5 separate regions of the Homo sapiens genome follow, and regions 1, 3, 4 and 5 are each reported to be linked to region 2. The links are microRNA targets in miRTarBase. Many come from high-throughput screens and were not tested one by one. Region 2 holds a microRNA gene; each other region holds the end of a gene's coding sequence.

Region 1 (6,409 bases), not on the chromosome of region 2:
ATATAAATTAAGCTAGCAGCTACTGAAAGAAACAGCTTATGGGAAAGAAAAAACTAAAGAGGTTGGAAAGAAAAGCACTGTCTTTTCTAATTAGAGAAAAAGACATCAGGGGTATGGGAGAAACCCTTTTCTCTCCATCCCAGCCTTCTATTCTTTTTCTAGTAGCTTCCATCCTTTTCTCTTTCCTTGTTTTCCTTTCTCCTTTCTCCACAGCAGGTGTGATTTATTGGATAGCATGACCAGGGAAAGTGTCTCTTCCTACAGGGGACTGCTCTCCTTGTCTCTTTTGTGTGTGTGTGTGTGTGTGTGTGTGTGTGTTTGTGTGTGTGTGTGTTAAGAACATTTAATGTGAGATCTACCCTCTTAACAAAAATTTTTGTTTTGTTTTGTTTTTTGTTTTTGTTTTTGTTTTTGAGACAGAGTCTCACTTTGTCGCCAGGCTGGAGTGCAGTGGCGCAATCTTGGCTCATGGCAACCTCCACCTCCCGGGTTCAAGCGATTCTCCTGACTCAGCCTCCCGAGTAGGTGGGACTACAGGCGCGCTACCAGGCCCAATTAATTTTTTGTATTTTTAGTAGAGATGGGGTTTCACCATGTTAGCCAGGATGGTTTCTATCTCCTGACCTCATGATCTGCCCACCTTGGCCTCCCAAAGTGCTGGGATTACAGGCGTGAGCCACCACACCCGGCCCTCTTAACAAATTTTTAACTGCACAGTACGATATTGTTAACTATAGGCACTATGTTATACAGCAGAGCTCTAGAACTTATTCATCTTGCATAACTGAAACATAATTAATCAACATCTCCCCACCTTTAACTTTGCCCAGCCCGTGGCAAGCACCATTTTGCCTCTGCCCTTATGAGTTTGATTATTTTGGATACCTCAAAGAAGTGCAATCATGCATTTGTCCTTCTGTCACTAGTTTATTTCACTTAGCATAATGTTCTCCATGTATATCCATATTGTCACAATGACAGAATTTCCTTATTTCCTATGGCTGAATAATATTCTACTGTATGTATATACCACATTTTCTTTATCCATTCATCTATTGATAGATATTTGCATATCTATCAATGCAATTTCCATATCTTGGCTATTGTGAATAATACTTATAAGCTTATTGTGAATAATATGCTTATAAGCATAAGCAATGAACACAGGCGTACAGATACTTCTTCAAGATCCTGATTTCTATTCTTTTGGATATATGCCCAGAAGTGGGATAGTTGGATTATATAGTAGTTCTATCTTAATTTTTTGAGGAATCTTCATACTGTTTTCCACAGTGGCTATCCATTTTACATTCCCACCCACAGTATACAAGGATTCCAATTTCTCCACATCCTCAGAAACAATTGTTATATTTTGTTTTATTGAATAATAGCCATCCCAATAGGTGTGAGGTGGTATCTCATTGTGACTTTAAATGACCTTGTCTCTATCATAAGGAAGTGGTTCTCTAGATAGATCCCTCCTAGCTGTGTTCCCAAGCTTGCTGGGGCATGAATACCCCAAGCTCCTTCCCTGGAGATTCTAACTCATCAGGTCTGGGGCAAGGCCTTGAGATCTGTATGTTTCACAAGTGTCCCAGGTGATTTTTATGAGCCTGCAAATTCTGGAAACACTGCCTCTCCCTCCGAGAAGAAGACCTAGTTCCTGCCCCTGCGGTGGGATGCTGGCAGTTCTGGCTGGGTAAACTCAGTCCAGTGGGGATGGTGTTCACAACTGAAGCTGCAGGAATCAGCCCTCCTTTCCAGACAGCTTTATTTGTTTCACTGTTAAATGTTTTAAGCCTAGTTGTTTGAATAAAAAGTTGACTTTCTATTTTAATTGTGCAAATATAAGCATACTTGTCACTTATTTTGGGTAAACCTACAAGTGCCTGATTTACTACTTCTCAACTGGACCACTATATAACCACTGGCCAGCACTTCCATCTCGTAGCAGCATCTCTAATCCCAGGTTTTGTTTAAAATATGACAACCTTTTCTGATCCTCTTAATAATCTAAGCCAACCACTGAAAATCATTATTCCACAGCCACCAGCAGCAAGGAAAATGGCCAAAATAAACATGTCATTTGTACCATCCACCGACCTTCCACTCAATCCAGATGTTTAAATGGGTTTGTACAGAAATGTACTCTAAGTATAATCTTTTCCTTTAAGAAATCATGTGTCCCAAAAAGGACCACAGAGATACTGTGTTAAGCCAAAATTCACATACATGTCATCCTCACGGACCTCTGAGAAATGAAAATATGGGTCTGTTATTTGGGAATTTATTACACTACAGTTTGAAGATTCAACCTATTAGCCATGGTTTAGTTAAGACTATAGATTGAGTAGCCCAAGGCAATAATGGCCACTAGTATCACCCATGTGCTACTCAGTTAAGTGGCCTACGACGTATTCTCAACAAATAGTTTGTCAAGAATACAAAGACAGTAATGCCACACCATGCTCACTTACTCCCAACCTTAGAAACACTTACAGCAAAGGGCTGCTCTTAGAAAAGGAAAACATCCCTTATGCAATATCAGGATGTCTCTACTCGTGAAATTACAAATCACTTCTGAGTGTCATGATTCTGAATTCTATTTTTAAAATCTGACCTTGAGCTAATTTGCCAGTTGCTAACTTCTATTTGACTGTACAGAGCTTTTCACTTCTCTTGATCAGTTTCACATATTTGCTTACATCTCTTGGCAAAAAGAGTTAAAATTATTTGATGAAAATGTTCTTGTGAGCCAGACATTATTCAAAAACGGATTCTAGGAAGGTTTATTAGTTCCATAGAGGTGATACTCAAATGTATGACTGTAAAGGAAATAACTGATAACTGAGATGGGGAAGGAAAGAACTTGTGTGTGAGTAAGAGAGAAATTAGAAAGGCATCATTCATTTAACAAAGATGGAAATTCACATCAAACGTTCCTTGACCAGGCAGCTATTCCCTGCTATTCCCTTAGAACCTTTGTTTTAAAGAAGGACCCTGAAATGTCACTGCTTCCACCAAAGTCTATGAAAAGGTTACTGAACTGAAGATAAGGGTGCATGGCTGGGTCCAAGTGGGTTCTCACGCTGATTCTCTCTGGGTACAACTTTGGAAAATCATTTCACTTCTCTGCTTCAGTTCCATCTTCAGTCAAATGGGAGAATAAAAACATATGTCCTACCTCACATAGTAGCTCTGAGGAATAACTGTGCAACTTTTCTTGAACATAGTAGACAACTTCTAATAAACACCAACAAGTACTCCACAGTGACAGCACTATTAATAAATAACTTTTATTCTTCCATGGCAATGAGCCAAGCCTTTACCCCAAAACTCAACTACAAATCCTCAATCCCTAGATTCAAATAGCGCATTGGAATATCCTATTTTGTATAGGGCAGGGAATTACATTCCAAGGGAGATGAGAAATGATTGAACATATTTCAATATCCTCATAGCGGGGTGCCCTGAGAGAGGCTGGTTTCCCATGAGCTCTGTTGTTCACCAGGACTCTGGCCACTGGGCAGACAAACGATAGAATGTCTATTTTTCTAATAAAGCCATATAAGGACCAATGGTAGCCCACCTTTTCCATGGTGGAGTCCACAGATGTGGAAATACAACACTCTGAATTAGTCACATTAGCAGCCACATAAGCATAGAACCAAATGGCAGACAGAAATGCTCTGAGAGCTTACCTACCCTCATCTCATTCTTGAATTCTTCTTCATTTTTTCTCGGCAAAATCAACTAGCACACAAAAAGAATATCTCTTAATCATAAACATGTATGACATGTATGATTGAGTCTGTTGGACTCAATCACACTATTTAAGACAGCAAACGTACATTAAGACTAAGAGTCAGTTTAATGTATTATTTCTAGTGCATTTTTTTCCTCGCCAAGAATAAAACGGAAGGTGAGAATAATAAAACTAGGAGACTGAAGTACATAATGCAAAATACATACAAATCTACATATAATCCTAATATGCTGAGAGAGCTTCTTAATGAAAATGATTTCATTCTGAGTTACTGCTAGTTTGATGCAAATGCAGTATGTACCATGGCCCACAACCCTGTGGTTTCAAGTAGGTAGAGTATATCTTGAGAAGTTATTCTTTGTTAAGATTTATATCTCAGAGTCAAGCATGCCTTGGTGGCAACAATCATTATTCTCAATGCAGGTAATTCAAACCAAGGAAAAGACACTGTGGAAAACTACAAAATATTTACTCTGCCTAATGTAGCAACTCCTACTGAAAAACATATATGTTGCATATTTATGAGTTGTAGCCCACGGTTGTGGAAAATTCACTACAGAATAAAACCAAATACTGCATGATACGTTTAGTATACAACATGCCATTTCTGCTCAGTACAAGAAAAATCTACTACCCAGCACCCAGCAGACACTAGGACTAACGGCCTGATAGCAGCAATGTGGCAGGTTGTTCTTTTTTTTTTTCTGCTCCAAAATAAAAATTAGAATAGTAGCATCGTTGAATATCCCAATTAAAACCCAGTCCAATTCAAAATTCATCTTCAGAGCTGTCGGCTAAGAGCATTACTCGATCTTGCATGCTGTTGAATTCTCTCTGCTAGAGAAAGAAAACAGAAAAGCATTAAACTCTTTCTGCCACAGAGCAAAGCTGAGAAACAGGCCCACTTTAAAAGACATGCTAACAAACGAAGCCAAGGCAGGAGCTACAGCAGCTAATCCAGACCACTGGGCACGTCAATACCACCCAAGCATCATTAAACCCCGTGTGCTTTATTAAGTAAATTAGATAAGCAAAGAATGTTCTGAAACTGATTAGGTTTTGCTGTTGTTGGTTCCATACCTTTCTTTTATGCCTTTTGAAGCCATTTCTCCTTCGGCGATTCATAACCTTAATGCTGTAGAGGGCTCCCAAGATGAACAAGGCTCCAGCTATCCCAACCCCTACAGGCACCAGCATCCCAGACATGTAACCAGCCTGCATAGAAAAGGAAACACACATTAGGATGCTAAACAGAGCGCGCCGCCCTGGGTTTCTCATTTCTGCTGGATGGCAGCAGGTTTTTAGACACTTTGAATTCTCCTGTCTGCTTTGTTGTAAGATAAAACTAAGCCTAAAATACAGTAACTTTTTAGGGAGAAGGCAACAGAGAGAGAGACAGGCCTATTTTGGGGATATTTCAAATACATAGAAGTATTGAAATAAATCAGCCAGACCTAGTGGCACCTCCAGCCACTAGCTTATGCACATTTGTCAACCTCAGGTTCTGATGACAGAAATATAATTTGTATTAAAGATGGATGAAGTAAGCCTCTGAGAATGCCAGGACTACTAAAATGCTATAAATTGGAAATATCAGCCAGAGTCAAGCTTAAAGGAGGTCAAAGTGTCCTCTGGAATAGTGTGTTTGCTGGGGGCTAAAAGGAGGGCCTTGACAGTGGTGGTCCTCTCTTCTCCCTCTCTGTCTGTCTTGGCTGCATTACAGTAAGAAAAGAAAGATGAAAATGCTTGTGGGTAAAAGGGGAGGGCTTCTGAAAACAAGGAAAAAAAAGGCCTGCAAAGGCAAGAGGAGGAATGTTAGATGTTGGAGCAAAGGCAGAAAAGACAAGGACAAGGGGAGAGTGTGCACACAAAATGGATGGACTGATTTCTGTGAATGGAATCACCTTCCCAACAGACAAGACAAAGTTGGAGGTTGGGAGGGAATTCTGAATGTCCCAGCCCCAAAGAAAGGAAGTGGCAGAGAAGTACACAAAGATCACTGCCAACAACACGATACCTCCAAAAGATCCTGGAAGTGTCAAATTCATCGATGTCTCCAGGGTCTCCAAGGTGTCACTATGGATACCTTTATCCTCAGAGAGCAGGATGATCCCTGGACTTGAGTAAGTACCTCAGGACCTACCTAAGCTCAGGGAAAGGCCATTGTACTCAGAGTGATCCCTACACCTTGGCCAATAAGACTCCTATGGGCTAACAGGGTATGTACTAACCTATAGCCCTTTCATGGGGGAACACAGGTAATGGTTTGCCTCCCAAGAAGCCCTTCTTAGAAGTCTACCCATGCAAAATACATAAACAATTTAAATTGTTCATAAGTCTATTCATTTATATGACTATTTTTTAAATTTTTAATACAGCACAAACTGTTTTAGTATTTTTCAAAGTGAGCCAAAAATGGAGCAGGACAGAGGATAAAAGTTTTCCTGAAAGTGCTGAAGTATGCAGGCTGTGATGTTTTCCCAACATTTCTAGCAGGACATCCAAAGAATACATCAGAGTTTATGAAACAGCAGCACTTTCCTCTTGTGCTCAGCCAGCTCCCTCACTGTTTCTGCCTCCCAGAGTCTTCACTTAGGGCAAAATATGGAAATTCTTCCATTAATTTGAGAACAATAGCACTGT
Region 2 (6,409 bases):
AAGACTGCAAATATGGCCGGGCGTGGTAGCTCATACCTGTAATCCCAGCACTTTGGGAGGCCGAGGCAGATGGATCATGAGGTCAGGAGATCAAGACCATCCTGGCCAACATGGTGAAACCCCATCTCTACTAAAAATACAAAAATTAGCTGGGCATGGTGGTGGGTACCCATAATCCCAGCTACTTGGAAGGCTGAGGTGGGAGAATCGCTTGAACCTGGGAGGCTGAGATTGCAGTGAACTGAGATCACGCCACTGCACTCCAGCCTGAGGACAGAGCGAGACTCTGTCTCAAAAAAAAAAAAAAAAAAAAGACTGCAAATATGGTGCAGTGTTTACTGCTTGGGCGATGGGTGCACCAAAACCTCACAAATCACCCCTAAAGAACTTACTCGTGTAACCAAATACCATCTGTAACACAATAACTTCTAGAGTTTTTTTTTAAATTTAAATTAAAAAAAGAACGTAAGGAGAAGAAAGATGTTTCAGGCAGATGTAATAAGGCGAGGAAAGGCACAAAAGCTAAAATATATATGTGGGGGGGAAATGAAGAAAAATATAGAGGGATGTACCTTTACATTTTATGATATAGCTTGGTTATTGGTAGCTTTGAATTTGATGTTAAACAAGAAATGGCTTGAATCTAATCTGGCTACCTATGAAAAGCTATAAAAATAATAATAACAAAAAGCATTCCTTTCTTCACAGCCCTGGATGGTGTGTTATTTTGTTTTGTTTAGCCAAAGGGGAAAATCAAGCACAATTGAATTTAACAAGTCTTTATTAAGAACTTACAAGGGGCAGCACTCTATTAAGCTTATAGAACACATAAGCAGAAGGAATAAGACTAACACAGTGACACAGCAGCACCAGGCCAAAAGAGAAAGGGGGTCCAGGGAGGAGGCCCTGCATGATTATGCCTGGTCAAGTGTTCACTGTCATCTAGTCTGCAGCTTTGGTAGTAAACAGCAAAAACAATACAGTTATGTCAATATATTATTTTCTTATTGTATAAGTACATATATACTTGTGCATGTATTTGTGTTACATTTTATCTCATCCATTATATTTGGTGCCTCTAGAGCTGTGAATTAAACTCCGTAAGTATTACAGTGTTAAGGAACAGTAAGTTACCCAGGTTGACTCTATCAGGATTTGCTATTTCAGTGTTGATACTCAGAAAGGTACCCAGATGAGTGTTACTCATACTTTCCAAACATTTCTGTGTAACAGATTCATTCAAGGTTCTCACCTGAATACCCTGGGTTTTCATTTAGCATACCTTTAGCAGAGGACTCTGGAGAAACTGCTGAAGGTAGTGTGTAGACCATAATATAAGAACACAATTATATAAACTCTGTGTAGTAGGCAAACCCCCATTATTTTGTAATGAATAATCTATCCATTCAGGAAAATAAAATAAATAAAATAAAATGGTTTATTTATATTATTGCAAGTTAAAAAGGTTAACGTTAGTGATTTCTATCTATAATTCTTCTTTTATCTTACACATTATTTCTAAGATGATAAATAAGTTTCATCTTATGTGCCACTAATAATGAGTTCTGGGAGTACTGGCTTGTGAATATTTCTAGGGCTAATCAAGTCGACACTCTAGAGGGAAAAACCTTATGGTCAATAAGCAATGACTGCAATAAATGGCAGAAGTGGAAGTATGCAGTAGGACCAAAGTCTGTGCATACTCACTTTCCTGAGATGTGCTTTACATTGCTTTACTTTTAGCATATTTCTTTTTTTGTTTTCTGAAATTTGGTGACTTATTTTTTTCTTTTTTTCAGGGTTGATGTTTTCTTATTTTTAAAAACATATTTATTTAAATTGACATATTAAATTTTATATATTTATCATGTACAACATAACACTTTGAAGTATGTATACATTGTGGAATGGTTAAATTGAGCTAATAAACATATGCATTACCTTACACAGCTATTTTGTGTGTGTAGTGAGAATACTTAAAATCTACTCTCAGCAATCTTCAAGAATACAATTCATTGTCACCATATTGTGCAACAGGTCTCTTGAACTTATTCCTCTCATTTAACTAAATTTATTTTTTCTTTGCTTAGAAACTTGTTTACCCACCACTTGGACTAATTGTTCAAATCTTCCCTGATGGGGACACAGCCATCTGCATGCAGACTGCCTCCCACCAAGTCCAAGAGCCCCTTCTCTCGCAAAAGGGCTCTCTCTCCACTCACTCTAACACATCAGAGCTGTTCTGTCCCTTCTCTGTTTTTTAAAATTCTTAGCTATCTTGAAGTCACCTTTTTTCCCTTCTCCTCTCCCTGTAATAATTCTAGTTCCATCTAAGGACTATATCAAGTAGTAGTTTCTGGCTTGTTTCCCCAGTGGAATGGTGAATTATTCAGAATTATTATTATTCAGAATTATTTACATGTAAAACAGCATAATGATGTATTTCTAATCTCTACTGTGCCAACACAGTAGAGAGTAAACAGCAAGCTATAAAAAATTGGAAGACAAAGATAACTAAATATATTTTATTTTGGTAATAATGCACTAAAATGTGTAACTTTTTGTTGTTTCCCATTTGAAAACAGTTTACATCAGTACTGGAATGTAATTTGGTAAGCATTAAAAACTCAGTTTATAAGTAATTCTTTAATATTAAACAGTGTTTTTTAGTATCAATTCTACCATAGTATAAAATTATATATTATATGTTTCATATTAGTGTGTATCTGTAGGTATACACATTATACCACACACACATAAATACACTGCAATAAGGAATACTGGATGGAAATTGTGATTATAATAATGCCAGAAATGTTAACCCAACTCTTGCTAAATGCTGTTACATATTAAAGAAGAGAAATGAGAGAAAGAAGGAGAGAAAGAGGAAAGGAAGGAGAGAGGGAGGGAGGCAGGGAGAAAGGAAAGAGGATATCCAAAAAGTTAACTAAGTTTATCCCTAGGTCTCCAAAATCAACATTAAGTGCCTAGTCACATAGTGCCTCATGCGTGTCCGTGTGAAAAGACCACCAAACAGGCTTTGTGTGAGCAACAAGGCTGTTTATTTCACCTGGGTGCAGGCAGGCTGAGTCTGAAAAGAGAGTCAGCAAAGGGTGGTGGGATTATCGTTGGTTCTTATAAGTTTTGGGATAGGCGGTGGAGTTAAGAGCAATGTTTTGGGGGCGGGGGTGGATCTCACAAAGTGCATCCTCAAGGATAAGGAGAATTACAAAGAAACTTTGTAAGGGTGGGGGAGATTAGGGTGGGGCAGAAACCAACCACAATGGTGGAATGTCATCAGTTAAGGCTATTTTCACTTCTGTGGATCTTCAGTTGCTTCAGGCCATCTGGATATATACGTGCGGGTCACTGGGGATATGATGGCTTAGCTTGGGCTCAGAGGCCTGACACATAGAAGTTTAGTTTGATACCTATAAAATCTGTGTTCTCTTTAACCTTTTGAAACACTTGCTAATGAATCACAAAGATAAAAGTCTTTCAAATGTATACACTGAAAACCTATGTAACACTGACAAAATGAAAGTTCTTTAGTCTCTCCCCACCTTTAAATCGAAGAAGTCACTGAGTGAGGATTTAGACTTAAAAGCAATTGTGACTTGCCTATGACTTGCTTGTTATGATGTCACCTTTACCCAAGATTTACTTTGGAACCTATGATTCATTCTGGCATTTTTACATGTCTTTTAATTGTCAAAGTTCAGACTTGGGTTTTTGGTATCTCTAAACTTATCATCGCTAAGAGTCCTTTGTAATAGTCTTTCAAAATTAATGAATCAAATGCTGGTGAGCACATGAATTTCTGAAGCATATATTTTTTTAAAGCCAGGCTTTAAAAGTCAAGGGTGATAAGAAAGAGGATCAAGTAAGTGCTACAGCCAATAATCCAACTCACTCTTCAGTGCTTCTGAATTTAAAATTAGAAGTGTTTCACTACACCTGAATTACTTGAATTACTTTGGCTCAGATAAGTAATTCTAATAGATCAACCCTAGAGATAAACACCTAACTTTAAAATTAGACTCACTGAAATGTCTGCTCTCCTCAAAATATCATTTTACAGGTTGAAGATGTTGTCCTATGAAAATCTAAGATGAGAAACACATTATGTATGATACATTACATGCAACATATAAACTTGACTCACTTCTCAACATTTCACATTTTTGTGTATTTATACAGTTAAAATACAATTCAATGGACTCCTCATTATACTTGTATAACTCTAAAGGGAAATAGTAGAAATAACAGTTATTGTAGTGTTATGCTACTGAAAAAAACTAGTTAGCTTAGGTCAAAGGATAGAAAAATGGAATGGTAAGCAATTACTGAATCATTAAAAGAAAGGAAGAGCTAGATTCCATGAAGCAAGAGATCAAAGGAATAAAACTCAAGCAGAGGTAAATTCATTGCTAGCTCTATTCCCCTTAATGCAATAAAACAAATGAAGAATCAGTTAAGTAGAGAGTACTTTCCATTATATCCAACATACTAATCATTTCTACCCTTCAATGGCTTGTCAAATTTCCATAAGTAAAAAGCATTATTAATATAGAAGTACAGTACATGACCATATTTTTCCTTAGGGATCATGCAATTTCAGAAATTATTAGAGATGGGAGTTAACATTCCTACCTACTCCAGCAAATACCCTTGGGTAGAATGCAAAAGTAAAAAGTGATGTAAATAAACATGGAAGAGCAAATCAGATAAACATGGGGTAAAATGGATATGTAGAGATACTCTACTATAATTTATCAAATCTGTTGTTAATCTATTGAAAAATCTGGGTATGTCATCTTCAAATTGACTACAAAACATGATTGTATTTTCCAAATGGTTAGAAGTAGACACTATTGAAAGGTGACAACGTGTTAGCAGCCCTGGCTCGCTCTTGGCGCTTCCTACGCCTTAACATCCACTCTGGCTGCGCTCCAGGAGCCCTTCAGCCCGCCGCTGCACCATGTGGGCCCCTCTCTGGGGCTGGCCAAGGCCAGAGCCGGCTCCCTCTGTTCCTGGGGAGGTGTGGAGGGAAAGGTGCAGGCGGGAGCCAGGGCTGCATGTGGTGCTCGCGGGCCAACACAGGTTCCCGGTGGGTGCAGGCTCCACGAGCCCCACTCTCAGTGCGTCCTGCCGGTGCCTGCTGGGCTAGATCAGGGAATGAGCTTGCTCTGGGCTGCCAGAGTGCCCGGGCTAGGTGCAGAAAAGTCCTGCAGTGAGTGACAGTGAGAGGTGAAGCCAGCTGGGCTTCTGGAACAGGTAGGGACTTGGAGAACTTTTGTGTCTAGCTAAAAAATTGTAAATGCACCTATCAGCGCTCTGTGTCTAGCTAATGGAGTGGGGACTTGGAGAACTTTTGTGTCTAGGTAAAGGATTGTAAATGCACCAATCAGCACACTCTATCTAGCTAAAGGTTTGTAAACGCACCAATCAGCACTCTGTGTCTAGCTAATCAGGTGGGGGCATGGAGAACTTTTGTGACTAGCTAAAGGACTGAAAACGCACCAATGAGCACTCTGTGTTTAGCTAAAGGTTTGTAAATGCACCAATCAGCTCTCTGTAAAATGGAACAATCAGCAGGATGCGGGTGGGGCCAGATAAGGGTGAATACGGGGAGTAAGAGCCAGCCCCTCCCCCCCCCTCCCCGGCTATTAAGACCCACATCGCAAAGGGGTGAGGCACCCCCCACCATACGGGGAGTAAAAGCCAGCCCCTCTCCCATCCTGGTTATTACGACCCACGGTGGACTCACAGCCTGTTTACGATATTGGGAGTAATATCATCTCCCCCTCTGGAAATTATGAACTATTTCACAGACGAGTGTACACCCTCCGTGTACAGAGGGTGTACACCCGTCTGTATTGGGAGTAATATCATCCTCTTCCTCCCTGAATATTCAGAACAGTATCACAGGAGTGTTTCTACTCCCTGCGATATTGGGTGTCATATCCTCCTCTCCCACGTGGAAATTAGAAACAATATCAGTGGGGGCGTGTACACCGTCTGTGATATTTAAAGTAATATCATCCTCTTCCCTCCAGGATCATGGGAACAATATCCCTGGGGTGTGTACACTTTCTGCGATATATGTAGTAATATCACCCCCTCCGCCTTGGAATATTATTAAGGACCATCTCACACGGGGATGTACACTTCCTGCGATATTGGGAGTAATATCAACCTCTCCGCCTCTGAATATTAGGAACAATATCGCAGGGTGGGTGTACACCTCCTGCTCTATTATGGGGAGTAATACCTATCATGGGGAGTAATATCATCCTCTCCCTTTCAGGATATTAATAACAATATCACAGGGTGGGTGGACACAGCCTGCGATACTGGAATTATTATCATCCTCTCCCCCTCAGGATACTAGGAACAATATCACAGA
Region 3 (5,841 bases), not on the chromosome of region 2:
AACTTTCCCTCCTGCCCTAAAACTTGCCTCCGTCTCTCCTGCTGTCTTATGCCCCTCGCTTGAATTCTTTCTTCTGAGGAGGCAAGAATTGAGGTTGCTGCAGACCCGTTATGGATTCACCACGTTAACACCCTGGCTTTGGTCCTTCCTTATCTTCTCTTTGCCTTTATTTAAACAATATGGAGTACTAAATCCTCTGATGGGTACCTGAGGGGCCTGCTCTTCCAGTTTGCAAATAGGGCACCCTGAGGCAGTATGTAGCAGGACTTCTGCTAAGAGCCTTTGAAAGAAAGATCAGGGGAACTTCCAAAGCTACCATAAATTCAACAGCTGTGACTTAGGAATATAGTGGATCATTGAAAAAAAAAAAAAGATTCTGATTTAAGAGAGCTGATCTTCAAGTTATATCCTCAGCCTGAAAACAGAGGCAGTTTTAAAACAGGGATTCTTTAGTTTTCTCTTCGGAGACCAAACAGATGAGAGCTACCACCACCCACCTCCCACAGCTCCAACAGTACCACTAAGGACTAAAACTATAAAAGTCATTCCTTAACTGATAGAATTAAAAGTAAAAACAAATGAACAAAATCTGAAATAATTAAGTTCTGGGAATACAACTGTTTAACCATTTCTTTGTATTTTTATTGATTTTTCTTTTTTAATTTCTGCCCAGTTACAACAACGAAATGGGAAACCACAATTAAAATTCACAAACCATGGCATGAAAAACAACACGCACCCCATCAGGAATTACACCAAACCCCTTTTCCTTTTTATTCATTCAAAAGAGAGTCCAATACACAAGTGTCAAATATGAGCACTGTCATTTTTTTTTTCTTAGAAGGGGGAAAAACATTTATTTTGGCAGTGCTTTGACAATTCCAGGAAGTGGTTTTGATACCACAAGTTGCAGGAATAGAAACCCTAACAAACTTGGAGGGCATTTGTTTGAGAGGCAAGGGACGCCTTGCTTAGAAAACATTCCTCTTGTGCTTAGTGAATCACCTATCGCCTCGGTGGGCTGCTGTGTCTTTCCAGGTGCTGAAAGAGAAAACGGAATTTCTTGCATAGACAGCTGAAGAGTCCTGTAGAGCAGAGTGATTTTTGTATCTCCAACCCTCCTCCCAACTTGAAACAAATTCTCAAGCTTCTCTGGAGCATCTTTTGGTCACATGACCCTCGATCATGGTAACCCTTTTGCTAAGACACATGTGACACCAAGGTTTCCTCTGACACTGCTTCTCTAGGGTTCAGATGACAGCATAAAACATCACTGGTCAAAAATATTAGATATTAAGAATGTGGGCGTTTATGTTCGTAACAGCAAATACTTTGTAGGGTGTGTCACCCAAAGGAGCATTTTTGTCATTTAATATGGTCCCCGGGGAGTTAGCCCAAAATCATACAAATAAGCCTTTTTCTAAAGACAGGTCAAAGTTGGTTAATTTAACAGTTGAGGAACCGTCTCATGCCAATTAAAAAATTCTTACTTCCCAACTATTCAATGGTCCAAAAAGCAATTAAATGTGACCATTCAGTTTTACACACATGCACACACACACACACGGAGACGCGCACACACACACGAGAACTGTGACAAAAGGATTCACCAGATTAATCTTGTGACTGTGTTCTAAAAGAAAATGAAATCTCAAACTTGAGGTGTCCTATTCAAGTATTAAAAAAATGCAAACATCGTCTGATCCCATTCGATTTTTATCATCATAAGAAATCATTCTCTGAACTGCAGGTTCTGGAGTCAGTGAAATTAATGCCTGGGGCACAAAATATTCTACAAAAATCGGTTTGTGATTTCTAGCAGGGCAGTCGCTTGCTCCTTATTTCTTTTAAAAAACATGTTGAGACTTTGTATACTGTAGCCTTCCAAGAGTCAATACTTTACAAAAGAAGTAAAAGAGTAGCGAGTACCAGCAACTCACTCTTCTTGTCTGAGGCTGGCGAGAAGCAGTCAGTTTTATACATTTTCGATCAACCCACGGAGGAGGCAAATGTAAACAGAGTTTTTTACACTCTCCGAAAAACATGTTACTACTGTAGCATATGCTGTTTGGCCCAATTAAAAGTAGAATGGAGAGCAATTTGTTTGGTTGGCTTTTTAAGTTTTACCTTGTGAAGATTTTAAAACAAGGGTATTACTAGTTCTTGGCAGGAGACCGTCCAATCAGAGGCTCTGTATTTATAAATAACCCGTGTGGGATTATGCTCTCCAGTGAATGTAACTGGAGCCTAAATTCACAACCTTAAGATCTGACAGCCAGATGTGGAAGGTCTACAAAGAGCTCTGCTAATAAGTAATATGTTTGCAAAGTGCTCTGCTAAGTAAGGTACTTATTAAGCAGAGCACTTTGTAAGATTCAGAACTGACTCCTGATTATCTTAAGCCATTAAAAGACTCAAGTTTTGCATGGACTTTTTGTCCTCTTTGGCCCCTGAGTGTGCCCCATCTCTGCCCAGCACTAATAACACGTTGGAAGAGCAAAGGATTTCCCACCAGCGTGCCAGATGATTTATATAGGCAGGGACCTTCATTGAAAAGAAGGGAAGGGACACTGTCTTAAATGCACATTTAAGGTTCTTTCTGATTATTGGCAATCTCTATGAACCAACACTTAATCCATGGGCTAACAGAGAGATTTTTTTTTTAATGTGAAGAGGATTAAAGAATAAAGAAAAAACAAAAAAGTCTTATACTAAAATAAGAAATCAGCCCCATCTTGGCACAGTTCTCATGCAGAATATTGCACCCAGTGTGAACTAACGCTAGAAGCTTCAAACTGTATAAATTTAAATGTATTTGCATATTATAAAAATAAAGATAAACATATACATATTTTACACTAGTTATGGAACAGCAATGAACGTCAGTCGATCCCTCTTTCACATTTAACAGAACTGAAATCTGAGTGCTCTAAATACTGCCACCTGTACTGTAACTATGGCTTATATGTGCACGGAAAACAAAATCCCTGAGAAGCCATTCGACTTTTTTTTTTTTTTTTTCTTTTCTTCAAGTAGCGCGCTCCTTGGAGGATCACAGTTCTGAGGTTCAGGTTGTAAAACATTTGCTCCATGTTCTCGTCCATGCTTCCCCCCACCACCCCCTCCCCACCTCTTCCCCAGTCGTCCAAAAAGCACCCTGCAAGCACGCGTTGTCACTCAAGTTCACAGAACACGCTGGGGTGAGTGCAGAGGGTCTGCCAGGTGCAAAAGATGGTCCAGGTGTTCAGATGCTCTCTTTTCTCCATGGAAATTCCACAGCCACAAACGTCACTGGTTTCTGTGCTTTTCACCAACATTCTTCCTGTATGGGTGGACAACAAGAAAGCACAGAGATGACAAAAACGTACTGGACAATGCTACCCTCAATAAGAAAAGGAAGTGATGATAGAAATCTATTTTCTGCACATATTTTCATTTCTACTTCCAGGACTCATTATAAACATGTAAATGTCAGGCAACTTATGTCCCCACAAAGGAAAGAGTCATTTTAGCAGTCTATTTGCCAAACATTTCTGTTGGTGTGTTAAGCTCAGTTCAGCTATAAGAGGGAACTGTACTAACTGGCTGTCATCACTTATTCCACTGTAATTTTATAGCTTAACTAGACCTCTAACTAACAACCCAAAACTCTAAACACGGAACTGTTTCCTTTCAATAAACACACACGGTCACACGCAGACACACACCAAATAATCCTCTAGAAGAAGGAATATATACTAAAAAGTGAGATGTCTGTCTGCCTAAAATGCATGATTTTACTTAAAATGTTATAAGTTAAGTTGTCCACGCAAATCTGGAGTCTGATCAATATAGAATGAATAAACTACTGCAGCCTCAGCAAATAAAGCGGGATTCAGTTCCGATAAAATGGTTAGAGGAAAAAATATCAAGTGTTTTTCTCATTTTTGCTTCCCTACAATGACATGTGATGGGATGTTTTTGAAAGTGGTTTTTTTTTTTTAGCAACTTTTAATAAAATATACAAAGACATTGAAAGGAAAGGAAAAAGGAGTTACGATTCGTTTCCTCCAATCCCCCATCTCTCATTAGGAGAGACGCTGATTTCATGGACACTGATAATTCAGCATCTGCCTAAACACTTCTCCAGTCCATACAAGATTCAGTCATGGGCTCATTCAAGCATGATAATAACGACATCACCAAAACAAAGCAAAGCAAAGCAAAACAAAACAAAACAAAACAAAAAAACCAAAAACCTCTCATTTACTAACTACATGCCAGGAATTAGGTTGTTCACTCTAGTGCATTATTTATCTTCAACTCCTAATAATCCCACCATGTAAGCTCCATCTTACTCAGTATTATTATTATTTTTTTTTTTTTGAGACAGAGTCTCGCTCTGTTGCCCAGGCTGGAGTGCAGTGGCGCAATCTCGGCTCACTGCAAGCTCCGCCTCCTGGGTTCATGCCATTCTCCTGCCTCAGCCTCCCGAGTAGCTAGGACTACATGTGCCCGCCACCACACGCGGCTAATTTTTTGCATTTTTAGTAGAGATGGGGTTTCACCATGTTAGCCAGGATGATCTTGATCTCCTGACCTCATGATCCGCCCACCTTGGCCTCCCAAAGTACTGGGATTACAGGTGTGAGCCACTGCGCCCGGCCTCAGCATCTTACTAGGAAGGGAACTAAGGTTCCAAAAGATGAAATAACTTCCCCAAGGGTGCATACTAGCGAGTGACAGAGCCAGGCCTTTCACTAGGGTGATCTGACTCCAAAGCTCAAAGAGAAGTTGGATATTTGGAGCCCTAGGAAAGAGTTTCACATTTCTAAGGCACTCTGCCACGAGAATTTTTTGAATGCCTATTAATATAGTAAACTCCCAGAAGAGAGGGTTTTGAAAACTGCCTCAAATTCAACTAATAATATAATCAATCTAACTGTAAGGAGGACGCCAGTGTAAAAACACACGTCTCAACCTAGCAGCTAACTTTGGTGGTGTGAGTTTTGGGTTCACGTGGGAGATGTGTTACATAAACATTTTCCCACTGAATCTGACAGACCTTCAGAAATGCAGACAGTCTGCTCCCCGGGCTACACGTAAGACTGAGAAACACAAGAATACCTAATCAAGGACACCTAGACGGAAAATCCCACTGTTCAACCAGCTTGAAAATTGTTTCACATCTATATGCCTTTTTCCACATTTGGGATCTTAGAGAAAACAACCATCAAAATCACCAACCTTCTCTGTTTCTCCCCACCTCTCTAGCTCCATAAACTTGTCCTCCTTCTTCAAGATCCATCTCAAGTACGACTTCCTGGAACTTTTCCTGATTCTTCCTGGTAGAGTTCTTTCTTCCCTGTGCTTACAAGACTCTGTTCATACACCTATCATGGCAGGTACCATGTTTCAATTATAATTAGACTCTGATAAGTTTGCCTGGTTATGGCTTTGATTCCTATCTTCTCCAAAGAGGCTATTAGGTTCTGGAGGGCAGGATTTGATTTAGTTCTTTATGTATCCTCAACACCCGGCCCAATGCCTACTAGAGGATAATTACTCAACAAAGATCTGTTGAATGAATGATGGGTCAGATGTGATGAAAAAGCCACAGGTAAAAAGTAGCCAAGATACTATGAGATCATTACCAAAAGAGGTATATAAAAAGTACTGAGGAGAGCCAGGTGCGGCAGCTCATGCCTGTAATCCCACTGCTTTGGAAGGCTGAGGCAGGCAGATCACCTGAGGTCAGGAGTTTGAGACCAGCCTGGCCAACATGGCAAAACCCTGTCTCTACTAAAAATGCAAAAATTAGCCAGGCGTGGTGGTGCATGCCTGTAGTCCCAGCTACTCGGG
Region 4 (6,038 bases), not on the chromosome of region 2:
TACTGTATATTTTCATATTATTGGAGGTATATCTTCAGAGTTCATTTCTAGATGTGAGACTGGTGGATCAAAGGGTAAATGCGTATGTGTGGGGTTTTTTTTAGATATTGGAAAATTCCCCTATAAAATGGCCGTATCAGTTTGCATTCCCACCAATAATATATAAAAACATCTGATTTTCCACAGCCACACCAATAGGAAGTCTGGTCACATGAAAACCACATTCTCAACATAACTAGAAGACAAAGCACCTACTTCAAATTGCCTATAAGAAAACAAACAAAACAAAAACAACCCAGGAGTCCTTCACACTGCTCCTAGAAGCCTCTGTGGTGAGCAAGGGCAGTCTGTGGAAAGACTTCAATGAAAGTGAAAAAAGCTGAGCTAGCAAAGTCCTCAAATTGCTCCAAAACCATTGCCAGAAAGTAAGAGTCTGCCGTAAAAATGAAAATGCTGAAAAGGTGTCCTTGTAGACCAGAGCACTAACTACAAGCACTACCTTCAGGAAAGGGCCATAAACATAATGTGATCTGAGTTGATAGCCTTTGAAAGGTGTAGTTCCTAAAAGAGGAAAAGGTCAAAAGGAAGGGGAGCCATCCTTTGGTGATAGGATGGTAGAAAAAAAAAGTGAAATAAAATAAGAAGTTGTGGAGTGTTTTGAGACAAAACAAAAATTAGAAGGAATGCAGCTCTCCCCTCCACAGCTTCCATTATAGGTCAGCCTCTGAGGTCACAGCAAGTTGGAGTGTGCTAGAGAGTGGTCCTGGATGAACAAACAGAAAATATCCATCACAGTAGGAGACTTATAAATAGGAAGAAAGTGGAGAGTTGATGAACATACTGCAGTAACTAAACTAGAAAGCGGAAAAGATTATATTGAGCAAGAAAATATGCCTGAATTAGTGATTTAAGAAGGTTCCATGGAGATGAGTGACTCAGGTAGAGTGAAGGAGGTCATTAGAAATCAAAAGGTCAATAAAACCAGAGGCACAGATGTTATAAGGAGTCATCCTTGTCAATGTGAAATAATTATGGATAATACCAGATTGTAGGATGGTTGGGAGACAGTGAGCCAGTTCCAAATCCCTCAACAGACAGGGGTGGGTGACCAGAAAGTAGGGGGATTGCAATAACAAGGGGTGGAAGAGGATCATACAGTGGGTTTGAATGTGCAAACAAATCTCTGATAGGCAAAAATATCTCATTGCACTTTCATTCCACATAGTACCAGGCATAGAGGTGAAGTTGGTGCCCTATTTTATTCATCATTGCTATTTGCAGACCAGTCCTCCTTCCTTTCCACAAAACCCTTTCCTTCGAGTCACGTATCATCAGAATATAGCACCTGCTATCTTCTTGTTTGCAATCATCTTCAGATGTACAAACCACTCATTTCGTGAAGATTTTAGCCCCTGACTCAGTATCACTCTCTAACATGAATCCCCATGCTTCTTGGTGATTTCAGTATCAATTAAGATGTTCCATGGCCTCCTCCGCACCAATACTTTTGTCCACCATTTTATCTCAACTTCTCACAACCATAGTTCTGTTTAAACCCTTGTATCACCAAAATCTAGAAGGCTTCAGTGTTAGTTTAGATAATGTCAACCACAATAACGTAACACACCAATCCCCAAAATGTTAGAACTCAAACATTACAGAAGTTTATTTCTTCTTCACATGAAATCTAAAGTGGGTGTTCTTGATCAGCAGACAGCTCTCCTCAAAGCAATGACTCAAGCTCCTTCCTTTCTGTGGTTCTGTTATCTTTAGCACATGACTTACTAGGTTACTACAGTCACTTTCATCAACTCAGTGTAGGGAAGGAGGCAAGGAGGATCACATATGGGGATGTTTTAGGGCCAGACCCAGAAATGCTACACATCTCTGATCACGTTCCTTTGGCCAGAACTCAGTCCTATGTCTACACTTAACTGCAAGAGTGCCAGGAAATGTGTCTAACTTTGTGCCCAAAATGAAGGGGAAGTGTATTTGTAGACAGCTTTGTCCTCTGGTTGCCAATTCTGTTTTACCCTCAATTGACGCATTCTTATTTCTCACTACTGCATATTACCATTCTAGTTCATCCTAAATAGTACCCCAAGTCTAACAATGACATGACCCCATTAAGGTCTACAAAATATTGATCCTGTTACTCATTGTTTCTTACCACTCATATGTCTTCACTTCCCTTCTCACATAGCTTAAATTCTATGGTCCATCATTTTAATCACTCCCTTGTGCACATGCTCAACTCACGTCATCAAATTCACCTGGGAACACCCAATCATGATTAAATCCAAGCAACTGGTTTTTTCTGAGACTGTATCTAGAAAGCTAAATATGACTGCAGAAAAACTCAGAACGAAGCTTGATGATTGCACTCTAAATTCATGAGCACTCACCTCAACTGGGTCTTTAGCATTGCCTGCTAATTGACTAAATGTCTCTAGTCCTTTCCTTCTCTGCCTGTCTTCAAACATAACACCTCCTCATGTGTCATCATTTTTATGATGACCTTGATGTATATGTCCCTGAGAAAACAGAAGAAATGTGAAATCAATTTCCAAAAGCTGCCACCATGGGCATCTCCAACCCACCTGCAACAGTTCCCTCCTAGTATGTACTGAAGCCCTGCATGCTTCCACCTAAGGCAATCTCTCCACCTGTGCACTAAAAAGAGCTAAAACTTACTGAGCACTTACTACATGGCTGGCACTATTTTAAGCTCTACGTGTATTAACTTAATTCTCATTGCAAATCCTATGAGGCTGGTACTGATTTTAGGCCCACTTTACACATAGATAACTAAGGTACACTGACAAGGAACATCCCTTGAGTCCTGCAGCTGATAAATGCCAGGGCTCCGATTTGTCTCCAGAATCCATGCTTTTCACCAAGGAGAATTATAGGAAAAACATTTGACATTTTAGTAAATTACCCTACCAGAGTGAATGGACAGTTACTCTTTTTAAAGAGATGTGTGTGGGGGTTGAGATGGAAGACATGACAAAGGAACAAGGAAAACACCTCCGCCACCTCTTAACAATGAGTCATATGGATGAAAATAAACCAGCCACCACTGGAATAGGCTGCAAAGGAAGCAGTACCTTCAGGGAAGGGGCTGTTTTTAGTTTCGGTAAGGAGGAAGAAAACACTCAGGATGGGTGGGAGGAAAATGAGGCATTTGCACATTGGACATTAACCAAAGCAAACAGGGCTAGGGTGTGACAAGACAAAAATTATTCATGTTCAAGTATTCCCAGAAAAGTGACAGTGATAGGGGGCTAAATATTATAAAACTCAAATTTCTACAGTGAGCAGGTATAACTTGCTGTAACAAATACATCAGTCTCAAGAGGAAAAGCAATACAACCTTTGCAATCAAAGTAAAATCTCACAGGAGAGGTTATCTTAAGCAAAAATAAAACCACTCAACCTCATAACTACAGGATACACGGTAAATATAAATCCTACAAGAAAATATCTTTACCCTCACAAGCCTACTGTTTATATTTTCTTCAAGGTAAATGACTGTTTAATAGTATTTCCGCTTTTACCCTTATCTAAATAGCAAGTTCTTGCTATTAGAAACCTATTTTATGCTCACTGATTCTAATTAGATCGAGCAGAATAAAAAGTCTAGAGCTTACAAATTTTCACTTCTACACAGAACACATGACATAGTCTAGCCCTTGCTCTAAGCCTTTCCTACTTCGACCATCCTGCCACTATAATCTCATCTATTACTGCTTTCTCAATCAGCTTTCTGCCTTGAATATCTCCCTCCCTGCCACTCAACTGCTTAACAAACAGCTTAAGCACCCACCATATTCGGGGCTGTAACACTCGTAACTTTATCTTCTTTCTCTCAATAAGTATATATTTTGGTCTTCCTGTGGCAAACTATAAGCAACTTGAGGGCAGACACTTGCAGTTATCTTGGTAAGCTCACATTTTAGCATATGACAACTTGCACATAGTAGGCACTCAGCTTTTTTTCTGAATAGCTGAGCCAGTGTTATTGCTATCCCTGGAAGCACTGGGTTATTACAGAATAGGCAGAGCGGGCCCTCATATTTAACAAATGAATGAATGAATAGGTGGATGGATATGTGCCTACTCTTAGAACTTCTAGGAAAGTTCAAAGAATTTCCTAATATTAGAAACTATTAGGAAATTAGAAACTATCACAACTGCTAGTTGTGATAACTGTGGTTAAGGAGGAAAAAAAGTTTTATTTTAAGAAATACACATTAAAGTCTTTACAGTGAAATGCCATGAACGTATGAAATTTAAAGTACTTCAACAACAAAACAGATGAAGCAAAATGACAAAATAAACATTGCCATAATAAATCTAGTTATATTCTATACAACTAGTACATCTTAGTCTAGTCTAACACTTAAAATGTAATTGGCAAGATGACAAGAATATGGTAAAAACCTAGAAATTAATCAGATTGCCTTCAGGTAAATCAGTAACAAGTAATATAGATACTCTAATAGGAAAGGATATGACATGCTTGAGAAAGTACAATATAATTTTAAAGTAGCTGAAAATTATTCACACTAGGACAACCAAGGCATGGCATTCTGAACTGCTTGTAGGAAGCAGGTAGGGAATTTCTTATTTAGAAATAAAGTAGTCACGTTTAAGAATAAATTTCACATACTACATGATACCAAAAAATGGGATCATTTATTTCTATTTAGGAAAAATACATTTTTCTTCACATATCTTCTTCAACTTTTCTTGTTTTACATGTAAAATCAGAATGTTCACTGTCATAAATAAATATAAATAAATATTACAAAAGAATAAGATTTACAAATTTGACTATGGACATCTCGATTCAGAAATAATATATAATCTTTTCTTATGTTAATATTGTAGTATCTCTGGATACTTTTAAAGACATTAAGTCAAAGAAGACACCTTTCACAGGCTTTTTCCAAACTCTATTTGTGCAACAAAGGAAGATTCAGTCTTTCATTCTATATTCCTCCCTTATCACCATCAACACCCCTGGTTCACCAGCATGTTTTACCTTTAAAATATTTTGCCAACCCGAAGGAAAGATGAAAATGCCTTACAGCCAAAGATTACTTTATAATGTGGTTCATCTCTCTTTAGCAATTTTGCTTAGAAGAGACTGAATTGGGTTTTTATTTGCTTTTGATATCCAAATAATGTTTTTCATTTTTTATTTCCTTTATAAGTGGAAATAACATTACAGATCTTGTGGAAAAAAATCACTTTCCTTCTCTTTTCCTCGTGATCCCATTCTAAATACGAACAAATCTCTATGCTTTCTTACACTTTTAGGAAAGGAATCACTCTCAATTCTGCAAGTTGTTCTATTTTCAAGAGGTGTAGGTGTGCTAAGAATGTGATTCCAGGACTGCCTTTTTTCTCCTTGCTCTGTTGACATTCCTAACACATCTTAAAGACAATGAAAGCATCCTAAATGAAGAGCACAATTGCATTTATTTTATCCAATATGCAGATAAGTCTAAGAAACTAGGAACAGTCTGTATACTTGTGTGTATTTTCTTCTTAACTCTTCTTTGGCTAAGTCAGCAAGCCCATGGTTACTAGCGTCCCAAGCAAACCTGTCAACGTGAAACACGTGTGCCCTGAAAATTAAAAAAAAAAAAAAAAAAAAGTTAAAATCAAAATGATTTTATTTACTAGTGATAAATATAAATTTTTAGTTACTATGTGATAAATCACCAAAAAGAATCAGTTAATTTGGGGTGCAAAACAAAAAAAATAATGAGTAATAGAATATGGACAAGATTCTACAGGTGGGGTTTATCAGCTACAGCAACAACTAAAATGTGACGTGGAGTTTTTAGTTTCTCGAGTTGAACAGTGGCTAAGCTAGAATGAATTAAGGTACCTTCAGATTAAAAGTCAATGAATTCCTAAGTGTGGGAGATGTTAAAAAAATATAAAAATAAATAAAAACCCCTGAATACTACTACATGTGGAAGAGAAGATTAAGAGATGAAGACACTCAGAAAGTTTTACAG
Region 5 (6,409 bases), not on the chromosome of region 2:
AGGCTGTTAAACGGTATCGGAGGCTGCAGCAGCAGCAGTGACAGTGGCAGCGCCGAAAAGAGGCGGAGAAAGTCCCCAGGAGGAGGCGGCGGTGGCGGCAGCGGTAACGACAACAACCAGGCGGCGACAAAGAGTCCCCGGAAGGCGGCGGCGGCCGCTGCCCGCCTTAATCGACTGAAGAAGAAGGAGTACGTGATGGGGCTGGAGAGTCGAGTCCGGGGTCTGGCAGCCGAGAACCAGGAGCTGCGGGCCGAGAATCGGGAGCTGGGCAAACGCGTACAGGCACTGCAGGAGGAGAGTCGCTACCTACGGGCAGTCTTAGCCAACGAGACTGGACTGGCTCGCTTGCTGAGCCGGCTGAGCGGCGTGGGACTGCGGCTGACCACCTCGCTCTTCAGAGACTCGCCCGCCGGTGACCACGACTACGCTCTGCCGGTGGGAAAGCAGAAGCAGGACCTGCTGGAAGAGGACGACTCGGCGGGAGGAGTCTGTCTCCATGTGGACAAGGATAAGGTGTCGGTGGAGTTCTGCTCGGCGTGCGCCCGGAAGGCGTCGTCTTCTCTTAAAATGTAGGGTCAAGTAATCTGCTCTTTATCCGCGTTTACCCCTTTCAACTCCCTTACACCATGTCAAACTTACCTTAGTGGGACATCTTCACCGGACACATTTCAGAGGAGAGAAAAAAAGTAATATTGAATCTTAAAGTGTTTAGCTAAAAGCATGAATGTGACACAGTAACCAACTCCTAATGATAACATGTGACTATTAAATCTCTCTGACAGTTTCTTTTTTAGGTGATTTCCTTCCTGCCAGGCTCCGTTGTAGGGGTTACAGAACAGTCGTTCCCGCCTCACAACCTGGTAAGGATCCATCTCTTCCCGTAACGCTCATGCTCTGCTGCTTTGTCTACTTTAATGGGCAACATCTCAGTTTGTGTGTGTGTGATTTTTTTTTTTTTTTCTGTTTTGGAAGGTGGGAGGGAAATCTAATTTGGGCCCTGTCCACCCTGGAAACAGACTTGTGCTGGTCAAGAATGTATTTAAGATGCCTCTTCTGGTTGAAATAGCTATTAATGTGTCCCCTTATTCAGACTTGCGTGTACCTAGCTCTTCTGTCCCCAGTGTGGACATGGCCTTGGATGACATCGGTTCCAACTGTACACTGAAACCTGCTTATAGAGAGACAGTTTGGAGACAGTGAAACAGGTGAAGTTGAATGGAAGTTCCGAGTTGTACAAGGTGCAAATTGGAATTCCGATTTTAGGGCAACTTTTCAGAGGTTGACAGTTAAGTATTTGGGGCATGCACAAATGTGATAGTTATTTTGCTGGAGGTGACAGGTATCTCTTAAATATCAACAATGCCTTTTAGTTTTCAGTATGAGATATAGAAACAGTCTATAATGGAGTAACATTTTAATGTCTCACCATTAGAGAAGTTGGAAATTAACATACATATGAGACTCCTGCGTTTTAGTTAATTGGAGAATAAGAATGGCTAATGTTTCTTTGAGGACCAGCAGTGATTACCCTATCACTGAGATTGAATAAATTGTTGAACATCTTTATTTTTGTTGTATTAAAATTTTAGGTTAAATTTATATATGTATGATTAGATATTGAAGGTTGTGAAATGTGAATGAAAACGTGTAAAGTGAGGCTTCACAAAGAATCTTATTCTCTGTGTTTCAAAAGTATTTGTCCTATTTTAAAATAATTTTTTAAATTGAGTGGTTCTGGCCACTTAAATGACACGATTGGTACTATTTTCCTAAGGTGGGATTTATTCCCTTGAATCTATTAACCAGTTGTATAAATTGAATTATGGTGTCCTTCAGTGTAAGAGGCATTAAGAAATTCTTTGTGAAACATCACTGCTTGATAAAGTATATACGTATTTAGCATCCTTGTTTTTCTTTGTGCTAAAGTGGATACAGCTGTTGGGGCAGAAGAGACGGGACCAGCTGCTGGCCACATTTCCTGCTTTATTTTAAAAGGTAGTATAAGAAATGAGGAAAAAGAGGTAATATCAGGGCTTCTGCTGTTTTTTATTTTTAACATGTTCATAATTAAAAAGTATTTTCCAGCAGTCCAAAGATGTAAGTTATCTTACACATAAAATGTTTTATTTTGTTATTTGGTTATGAAAATGGAATCCTTGTTCTTGCACAACTGTAAATGTTTTGTTGCTAGATAATACGATTTGAGACCTGAATTGGTCTTTGGTTTCCAGTGCATCACAGCATATTTTGTAAAATCATCTACTACTGCACTTGAGCATGAATGGGTAGTAGCCAAACTCACAAATTGGAGTGATGAACCTGCTTATACCTAAGGGCAGGAGCAAGCCCCTCACAATGCAGCTGCATGGGTTTTTAGTGCCTACTGAATTATATATATATATACATATATATATATATATATAAACCAAAAGTAGTTGGAAAGATTATTTGAAATGACTAATTTGTGCTATCTTTATGAAATATGTTAAATGTAGCTTTTTTGAAACAGAAGCCTTGAATTGAAATTTAACTAATACTTGAACATTTTGTATATATTTCTTTGTATATAATTTTGTGCAGTACCAATGACAAAAATATGGTGTCATAATAAAACCAGGTTTGTTGATCTTTTAGTTATGGGCTCAAAGAATTTATTCATCTCTAACATGATATTGGAAAATAATGGATGAAAATAGGAAAAATGATTGTTAATGCTGACTGTGGGTCTTAAAAGGTTCTGGAAAGCAGTAAGTTCATTTTTCTAAAAACTATAACATTCTGTTGGAGTATTTTCTTCCTTACGTCAATACTTTTCCTGCATTATTTGAAATTGTGGGCTGGGGAGAAACAGTAGTCAAAGCTTTCTGAATTGAGATACTTTGAAATTCCAAGTGTAGATTTTTAGAATGTCATTTTATAAATGGCAGTTTTTGGAATTACTTGATAAGAACTTTTGAAAATGGAAGGATTAGTATGGCCTATTTTTAAAGCTGCTTTGTTAGGTTCCTTATGTTTTATTAACTGTCTTTTCTCAGTTTCCATTTCATTTTTTTTTTTCTAGTTTTGGTGACTTAGTGATTTTGTCATTTTTTACATCAACTTCATGGTCTTGTTTTTACATGGTAATTGCATGTACTTAGGATCTATCTAATAGGGGCTTTAAATAAATTTGGTCATATTTATGTGTAAGCACATTTTACTGTAAATGTTTGGGTTTCTGAATTTAAACAGATCTGTTTATTTCAGTATGTAGTAAACAATATCTTAAAGTGTCCGATTCACTACTTGTTAATTAAAAAAGTTATGATTAATGTGAAACTGTTGTCTTACTATTTTTAGAAAATTGTGTTCTGGATGATTAGCACATGGATAAAGGAGATTTCTGGAATATAAAATGGATTGTTTTTGAAATTTCTAGGTTTGGCTCTATTTACTGTAATGGTTGAAAACAATTTAGTATTTGGGTGACCCTTTTGTTTTTCTTCTAAATGTGCCTCTGGTAAAATACAGAACTAGACTAAAGATGTAGCTTTTTAATATTTGTCTTTTGATGGTGGCAGGAGTTCATACATTAATTGAACTAACACATCATATTTTGACCTACTATTTCTATCATATTGACTTACTGTTTCTGCACTTCTTTGACCAGACTTATCTTAAAAAGTCCACTTTTGTTAAAATGTAGTCACACCTCTGATATAATCCAACAAGAAGTGTTCAAAATATTTTAAATATTTGTGCATTTTATAATCACTAAATTAATCTCTCTCTCTTCTCTTTGAACAGCTTAGCAGTGTCTGCAAAAACGAATCTTTTCCTACAACCTGTTAACTGACTGGACTGTTGGTAACAAAGTAATTGTGAGAACCATGTCGGTCAAAAATTTGGCATCTGCTGAAAAAAATGAATGCCATTTTCAAGTTCCCAAATTACTTCTATACTGATTTCACTTTCCAGAAATGGAGATATGAAAAGATTCTCTGGAATCCTTGAAAGACTTAATAGAGATACATGAGACTAAGTTAATCTTGGAACAAAATTATACTTTTTTTGTCTTTCATGGGAGTGATACTCAGTTATTGCATATCTTTACAAAATTGTAACCTTTGGAGAATTACAGTATTTCATCAAGAAATTAGAGTTTTTACATAATCAAGAGCATATTCTATGGAATTAACATTTAGTGGACTAGAATTACATAAGCAGGCCATCAGTGATCACAAGGCATATGAGTTTGTATTTATTTCCTGGAACATGAGAGCTAATTTGGAGTACAGACAGACACCCTGCTGAGTAGAATATAAAAGTTAATGTAAAGTTCTGAACTATAAAGAGTAGTCCTTTTAAATAGATGCATTGATTTGTATATCTTTGAAAAAGTTGATTATGATTAAATGTGTGGGTAGTTAATTACAATTTAGGGTAACAACCAGGATGTATGGATTCTTGAGGTTTTGGCTTCTTGAGCTTTCTCTTGAGTACTTGATACTGTTTTCTGAATATTTTGAGGTTTCTAATTAATGGTATGCTAGTTTCTACTGTTTTATATAAAAATTTATCTAGTGTTGTATAAGGACTTTAGTATTGTGGATGATGGGAGTGGCTTTTTGTGGCATATGGTTGTTTTAATTGAAATATTTTTTCAGTTTATTACAAGTGTGAAAAAACACTCAAAACTCTGGATTGTTTTATTTCATTTTTGTTGGATTATGTTAATACATTCCTTCACGTGGTTTAGATTGAGTCATTTTATCTCACTTACTTGGAAATGTGCAGCTGATAGAAGAGGGATTGGGTAGGAGATTGGCTTTTACTTCATAATAAATATACAGTTGGTTATTGTATTATTCAAAACTTATTAAATCCATTCAGTTTCTTACCATTTTAAGTGTATTCAGTGCCTGTGAAGCCAGGCAGCAGAGTATTCCCACTGGCTTAAAACTTAGGCGCTGATGCTCCTACAGTACAGCTAGTTATAATTCCAGAACCAAAGGCACCAACATTATTTGGTGACCTTAACTACTACTTTGATAGAACAGACTGGGTAATTCACTGATAATGAGTCATTACCTTTTTAATATGTGATTATCTAGTTCAGCATTTTGAATGTGTAGTTTAAGGTCTGATTTAGTAAAATTTTAAAGCTAAATAATCTGATGACTCTTGAAAGTTTAATTGGTAGTATGACATTTATGTTTTTTTCCCCCAGACTCACAGCCAATACAAAGTTTTGAGACTCCTAAATGTTAATATTTTTGCTGTTTTTCTGAGCTGTTTTTTTATTTACTTACCACCTAAGCTGCGGATCAAAAAGGGAATTCTTCCATTAGAAATTTGTAGTGTTGTGTGGCCAGCACAGTATTTTTCAGATTTGAATTTCAGTACCTCTGTGTAGCCTCAGTACTCTCAACACCAGTCACTCTTTATTGTCTTAAAATATTCCATACTTTTTGTTGACCCAAAATTGTTGAAAATATTTTGCTCAGTTTTCACAATGAACTAATTGAAAAGTGTAGTTACTGTGTTGTAAACATTTGTGTAGTTCTGTTAATACACTGATTTGAATTTTATTTATCTCAACTTCCTTTAGCGTCTGCCTCCAAATTTTGTCTTTGCTGTATACCCACTGAGATCAATTCCCTAGACCCCTCTGGCTCTTAGTGTACTATAATTTGGGCTTTATAAAATATATTGTCTTAATTTAAATAGAATGTGAGCCCTCTTTTTTTTTTTTTAAGCCAAATAACTACACAAAGTAAATTATAAAAGATTTAAATAGTTTGTCTACAGTGACTAGACTGAAATATAAAAATTGATTGAGGGTAGTTTACTTCAGGTGTTAGCTACAAATGACTAAATGTCCTTAAATAATGCAGATATCTGCCCTCTGAACAAAAATTTTGGCAAAGTAAATTTGTAGCAACAGACTTAACATGATTTATTGCTTATGTTGCCCATTTCTGCTAATGGAAAAGATAATTTAAAAATATGTGGCAGAGGACAGATATTAGAAATACTTTTTGGTTACAGAAACCATTGTAAACTCATCCTCATTTATAAATGGTATTATGCTAGGGAGTAATTGGACTAGGAATGTTTAAAGATAAGTAAGGAAACAATGTGTGCTCAATCGTCAAAGAACTTAGTTATATCATTGGGCTTTGAATTATCTAAGTTGATTACATAATTCTATATTCTTAAGGAGTCTTAACTCGGTACTTGGGTTAACGCCAGAAATTACTTTTAATTCATTGTTTTTTTCACTGGGATGAGTAGAACTCTGCTTTTAGTAAAAGTGACAGAATATAGGTAAAATGGATGATTTGGGATCAGAGCTTTTCATCTTGATATTTTAGCCTGTAAAATAAACAGCTATATTGTTTTGCCCTTTAAATGTTATATATATTTT

Evidence for each region. The annotated mature microRNA hsa-miR-1297 reads UUCAAGUAAUUCAGGUG and lies in region 2 at 3,955-3,971, opposite strand. An mRNA with a match to its seed (bases 2 to 7 or 8) in the 3' UTR can be bound and repressed. Matches are read on the target gene's strand: a 7mer-m8 pairs with bases 2 to 8, a 7mer-A1 pairs with bases 2 to 7 and ends in A, and an 8mer does both.
Region 1: the mRNA of ARMH4 is a reported target of hsa-miR-1297. Seed matches in the 3' UTR shown: 8mer at 4,089-4,096.
Region 3: miRTarBase lists MFHAS1 as a target of hsa-miR-1297. Seed matches in the 3' UTR shown: 8mer at 3,028-3,035 and 8mer at 1,671-1,678.
Region 4: the mRNA of CD55 is a reported target of hsa-miR-1297. The part of its 3' UTR that is shown has no 7-base or 8-base seed match.
Region 5: miRTarBase lists CREBZF as a target of hsa-miR-1297. Seed matches in the 3' UTR shown: 8mer at 2,535-2,542, 7mer-m8 at 2,938-2,944 and 7mer-m8 at 4,480-4,486.

Annotation. Positions count from the first base shown.
Region 1 is chr14:58,000,202-58,006,610 of GRCh38, forward strand. It overlaps ARMH4 (armadillo like helical domain containing 4), which reads right to left. Exons shown (of 8, transcript NM_001001872.4): 7 at 4,847-4,981; 8 at 560-4,603. The coding sequence ends at 4,535. Among named protein-coding and RNA genes, the nearest start is that of SLC35F4, 140 kb to the left of the region's middle.
Region 2 is chr13:54,308,027-54,314,435 of GRCh38, forward strand. MIR1297 (microRNA 1297) reads right to left here and starts at 4,022; the gene lies at 3,946-4,022.
Region 3 is chr8:8,782,734-8,788,574 of GRCh38, forward strand. MFHAS1 (multifunctional ROCO family signaling regulator 1) reads right to left here. Exons shown (of 3, transcript NM_004225.3): 3 at 621-3,322. The coding sequence ends at 3,289. Among named protein-coding and RNA genes, the nearest start is that of CLDN23, 84 kb to the left of the region's middle.
Region 4 is chr1:207,359,147-207,365,184 of GRCh38, reverse strand. It overlaps CD55 (CD55 molecule (Cromer blood group)), which reads right to left. Exons shown (of 10, transcript NM_000574.5): 10 at 4,219-5,639. The coding sequence ends at 5,575. Among named protein-coding and RNA genes, the nearest start is that of CD55, 40 kb to the right of the region's middle.
Region 5 is chr11:85,657,975-85,664,383 of GRCh38, reverse strand. CREBZF (CREB/ATF bZIP transcription factor) reads left to right here. Exons shown (of 1, transcript NM_001039618.4): 1 at 1-6,394. The coding sequence ends at 573. Among named protein-coding and RNA genes, the nearest start is that of CREBZF, 4.0 kb to the left of the region's middle. RefSeq lists enhancers at 1-281, 392-631.